Regions from separate parts of the Homo sapiens genome. Here region 2 is linked to region 1. The links come from fine-mapping of genetic effects on gene expression. Tissue or cell type: whole blood. Region 1 holds a variant in brackets; the other region holds the start of a gene. All regions are shown on one strand. Distances are between the middles of the regions.

Evidence for each region. PIP is the estimated chance that this variant, and not a neighbour inherited with it, causes the effect.
Region 2: it holds the start of ZNF862, and the variant in region 1 is fine-mapped to the expression of ZNF862 in whole blood (TOPMed, PIP above 0.99).

Annotation. Positions count from the first base shown.
Region 1 is chr7:149,861,731-149,864,230 of GRCh38, reverse strand. ZNF862 (zinc finger protein 862) reads right to left here. Exons shown (of 8, transcript NM_001099220.3): 7 at 1,737-2,500; 8 at 1-122. Among named protein-coding and RNA genes, the nearest start is that of ATP6V0E2-AS1, 11 kb to the left of the region's middle. The variant G/CTGTG (reference allele first, on the strand shown) is at 1,053.
Region 2 is chr7:149,837,126-149,839,736 of GRCh38, reverse strand. It overlaps ZNF862 (zinc finger protein 862), which reads right to left and starts at 1,362. Exons shown (of 8, transcript NM_001099220.3): 1 at 1,102-1,362. The coding sequence starts at 1,125. RefSeq lists a silencer at 827-1,286.

The DNA of each region.
Region 1 (2,500 bases):
AGGCTCCATGATGCAGTCCTTCAGAACCTCCGCTGCTTCCCTGGAGGGCAGGATGGGTGGCTTCTGGGTCCTGGGCTCCTCCACATAGAGGGCTCCCATCTCCTCCTTCCTGAGCCTGGCGCCTGTGAGGGAGGAAGGAGAATACAATTAGACTGACTGACAGTGACCGCCTTCCACATCCAGCTTCGCCCAGGGGCTGTTTGGTGAGGAAAGCTTGGCAGAACAGACTGAAGTCAGGACCACGACTGCTCTTTGCAGCCCTCATCTGTTGCTACTCTGTTCATTCTTTTATCCTGAGATAGGGGATCTCAACTGGGGGCGATTTTGTCCCCCAGGGGCCATTTGCCAATGTCTGGAGATGATTTTTGTGGTCACAAATGGGGTGTGTGCTACTGGTATCCAGTGGTTATCTAATAGGTAGAGGCCATGGATGCTGCTCAAGTTCCCACAGTGAACAGGAAGGGCCCCCAACAGAGATTACCCAGCCCCAGCATCAACAATGCCAAGGCTGAGAGCCCTGCCTGGAAGGAGGCAGCGGTGCGTAGTTTGGCAGTGTTTGGACCAATCTGTGCTGGTCCTGTTGTCCCTGTGGAAAGAGTAACTCGCATCAGGGCACACCTGACATCATTTTTTTCTCCTTAGCACCCACAGGGCTGGACACAGAGCAACTCACCCAGCCCTCTCTCGGCTTTCCCTTTCTCTTATCAGTGAGGGGTCTCTTTTCTTATCCCCACCTGCCCTACTGTGGCTTCAGGGCCACCTTGCTTCCTACAGAGCCTCTGTCAGCCATGAGATCCAGTCCCATTTCTGGTGACCACAGACTCAGAGGTGAAAACTGGGAGCAGCAACAGCCGGAAGGAGGCCAGCTAGAGACGCGAGGAGAGAGAGCACTGGGAGCAGCAACAGCCGGAAGGAGGCCAGCTAGAGACGCGAGGAGAGAGAGCACTGCTCCATCCTTGTCAAGTGGTCGCGAGTGGTCTGGAGAACCCCAACAATGGGCATATTTTCTTTGGTTTTCAGTGACTACTTGAAGAGAAAAATTTCCTGTCTGT[G/CTGTG]GCTTTCAGTAACTTGCCCTCCCTTCTAATACAGCTTCCCCCTCAAGCAAGTTCTTGACCCCAGCCCTCCGGTCCAGAGAGGCTGTTTCTGTTCTCCCCTGCCCCGTGAGATTTCTGCCTGAAAGCCCCACCATCTCCTCCGCATCTCACCTCCTCCACAGCCACATGGACCTCTTCCCTCTTGAAAATTCCTGCACGGTCCAGAGTCTATACAGCCCCACTTAGAATGTGATGGCGCTGCCTGGGGCTGGTCAGCCCTCTCCTTACTCCCAGCAGTGGTCTTGACCTTTAACTAGTACCATTTGCACCACCTGCCAGGCATTGTCCTGAGTGTTTTCCACACACAACTCATTCGGCAGATGAGAAACCAAGGCATCAAAGGACAGACTTGCCCAAGGCCACACAGCCAGTTGGGGGCAGAGCCAGCACAGCACTGTCACCAGGGCAGACAGGCTCTAGAAATGCACGCTCTCTGCACTAAGCCCTGCTGCCTAGAGCACATGTGCGTCATCTCCCTGGCAGGGGTGCAAGCTCCTGGAGGGTGGATGTCACGCATCGAGTACCCACTGGCCTAGCAAATGGGTGGGTGCATGACAGAAGCTCCACAGGCACCTGCAGTCCTGTCTTATTGGCCTCTGGCTCAGCATGAGGCTGCCTTGGGGGAGCTCTGCCACGTGTACTTACTTGCAGGGGAGCGGGCTGGCACCTGGGCACAGGTGTAGACATGGCTGAAACGCCGGCCTGAGGAGGTCAGGTACCAGTGCTGGATGGCGGGCTGGGGGTCGTACTCCGTGACGGCCACGCCGTTCACAGCTGTCATCATGAGCATGTTGAGCACCTCGTTGGAGAGCTTGGTCCTCTCATCGGTCCTGATTCGGTTCATGGCCTTGAACCCCCGCTCACAGCAAGAGGTGGAGATGGGCACACAGACCACCACGGCCATGAGCTTGCTTAGCAGGGGGAAGCGGCAGTGCTGGGCCAGGGCGTTTTTGCAGAGCATGGAGAACGGGAGGTGCTGGGCAATGGTTTTCAGGCCCAGCCACTCCTCCAGCAGAGCTTCCTCACTGTATCCTGTTGGGAGGGAGCACTCGAAATACCTGGCCAGGTTGAGAATGTCATCATTCCCAAAACTGGCAAGTTCAATCCCACTTGGCCAGGCCATGGTGTCAAACACCTCCATGTTCTTCAGCTGTGGGGGTCGGTCTGCGTCAAACCTCTGCTGGAGGTACTCAATCCCCGTCAGGACTGTCCTCTCCCTATCCGCCTGGAACCGCTGTTCCGCTACCTCCAGTTTGTCCAAGCAGATGCCGTGGAGCCGCCCATCCTTGAAGCTGGCGTTGAATTCTTCCTCTTTGGGCCCTGCCTGGTGACGGAGGCTCTCCAGTGCCACGTAGGCGCGGCCCAGCGTGGCGTTCACCTCTGTAATCAGCACGATCTCCTTCTGGCAC
Region 2 (2,611 bases), 25 kb after region 1:
GCATCACTGTAGCTTGTGGAGGGAGGGAGGATGGAAGAGATGCTCATGCGAGAAATCACCTCTTTTGAAATTCAGAGTCCTTCCTAGTCTTCCCAGGAAAAACTACAGCATCAAAAGAACCTCATTATCCTTTTCTCTCTTTTCGTGTGGGACAACCCTTTCAGGCGTGTCCAAGTTATTGAAGTGAAAACTGCAGGAGAGCTCCTTGAGAAAGGTGATCATTTCCTATTTATCCTCATACTTCCAGCATCTCGTTCAATGCAAATCACAGATCACAAATGTTTATTAAATGGACAGTTTTTTAAGGGACTCAATAAACAGTCGAAAACGTTTGTTGAGAGAATTCTCCTCTGTGCCAAATAAGAAACAATACTCAAGAACTGGCAGCAAACAACATCCAGAAAGATGTTAGTCCCAAGAGGCTGCCACTGTCTCCAAGCTAATGTGCCCACAACCACACTGGTCTTGGATGACACGGCCTGGAAGCGCTGGCAATCCCGTCAAATCCCTGAACTCCGCCCCCAAGCACTTTCTTTCCACCTTTTCTTCCAACTCAAAGCCTCTTGCCCAAAGCCAATTTATGACACAGGTTTCTAAGCAATGCCCAGATATTCCATGAAGTACATAACCTAGAAACAGAAGTGGCAAAAAGCATGCCAGATGCCCTCTCTTTTCAGCCCTTTCTTGGTAAGGAGGATCTAGGCAGGGTCAAGCCCTCAAGCGTCCCACCCTGCAGCTCCCACTGGCGTCCGATCCAGACTCCAAGCCTTAGCAGGGCCTCTTCAAAACGCCGAAGGTGGTGGGGAAAACAGGAAGCACCTTCGCATCGCTCCACTCGGGGGTCACCCAACCCAGCATCGACCCAGCGGACGCTCGGCAGCTCGGGGAGGATGCGCGGACACCGAACGGAAGCGTCCGCTCCTCTCCGCCACCCTCCCGGGGTCGGGCGCCGAAGTGCGGGAAGAGAGGGCGGGCCGGCGAGTCCTTCCCTGCAAGCCTGGCTCATCTGCGGGGCCTCCGCCCGAGCCGCCCCGCCTCGCCCGAGCCCGGCTCGGGGATCCTCGGGAGGGAGCGGGCGGCCCCCGGGCCTTCCAGTCCTACCTTCCCCGACTCTCTGGGCTCCATGGCCCCGCTTTCGGAGGCCCGTGCCGCCCCCTCCCCCCGCGGCCTGGCCTGAGGATGCAGCCGCCGCGACCGCCCCGGGGACCCAGGCTCCCGGAGGGGGAGGGCACCCAGGTAGGGAGGGAGCGCGGCCCAAGAACTTCGCTCTCTCACGTCGGGGGGCGGTAGCGCCGGTGGACCCAGGATAAGCGCGCTGAGCTGAGACTTGCGTCGCACCGAGCGAACAGCTTTACGGTCACTGCCCAGCCCCAGGCGGCGGGGCGTGACGGGAAGTGTAGTCCGCTCTAGGTGAGCGGCTCTCGAAGCTGCTATTGGCTCCCGGAACGCAGGTCCTGATTGGACGCCGGCGGCGCGCTTGCGACCCTCCCCGCCTCCCTCCGGCGACAGTTACTAGGCAACGGCGGCGTGGCGTCCTTTAGTCCTCTGCAGCAAGGGCAAAGCGCTCTGATTGGGCTACGCGAAGGCCAATGTCAGCCTTGAAGTTCTAGGTTTTCTTTTATTAAGGAGGGCAATACTTTTTGTTCTATTCACTCAAAAAGTATCATTGGTTGCCTACCATGGGTCAGGCCGTGTTCTAGGGTTTGGGAGAACACAGTTGAATGAGACAAAGGCCTTGCCTTCAAGGAACTCACGATCTATTAGGGAATCAGACCAGAAACAGATAATTACAAAACAGAGACAAGGGCTATGAAAGAGGTAAGCACAAAACATGAATTAAAGCCCGCGTTGTCACCTTAGAGTGAAGCGGTGGGGGATATGAGGTGCTTAGTCAAGGATTTCCTGCGGAAGTGATGCCTCAGCAGAATTAAAGCAAGAGGTAGGGTCTGCCAGGTAAAGGAGGTGCAATGGACTGACCGGTGTTCCCCTCCCAGGAGATGGGGCGTTTGGGAGGTTTAGATGAAGTCGTGAGGGTCAGGCCCTTATGGTGGGATTAGTGTCCTTATAAGAAGTTTTGTCCAAGTGCGGTGGCTCACACCTCTAATCCCAACTCTTTGGGAGGCTGAGACAGGAGGATCACTTGAGCCCAGTAGTTTGAGACCAGCCTGTGCAACACAGTGAGAGATCCCATCTCTATAAAAATAAAATAATTTTGTGAGGTGGAAGGATCACTTGAGCCTGGGTGGTCGAGGCTGCAGTAAGCCGGGATGGCGCTTCTGCACTCCAGCCTGGGTGACAGAGCAAGACCATGTCTCAAAAAAAAAAAAGACTTTTAGGGGGCCAGGGCAGGGATGTGCCTTCATGAAGGTGTTAGTGACCACATGCGTGCTGGGGGAACTAGCTAGGCCCTTTGCCCTTCTGCCCCTCTGCCTTCTGCCATGTGAGGACAGAGCAAAAAGGTGCCCTCCTGGAAGCAGAGACCAGGCTCTCACCAGACACAGACACTGCTGGTGCTTTGATCTTGGATTTCCCAGCCTCCAGAATCATAAGAAATAAGTATCCATAATTTATAAATTACCTAGTTCCAGGGATTTTGTTACAGAAGCACATA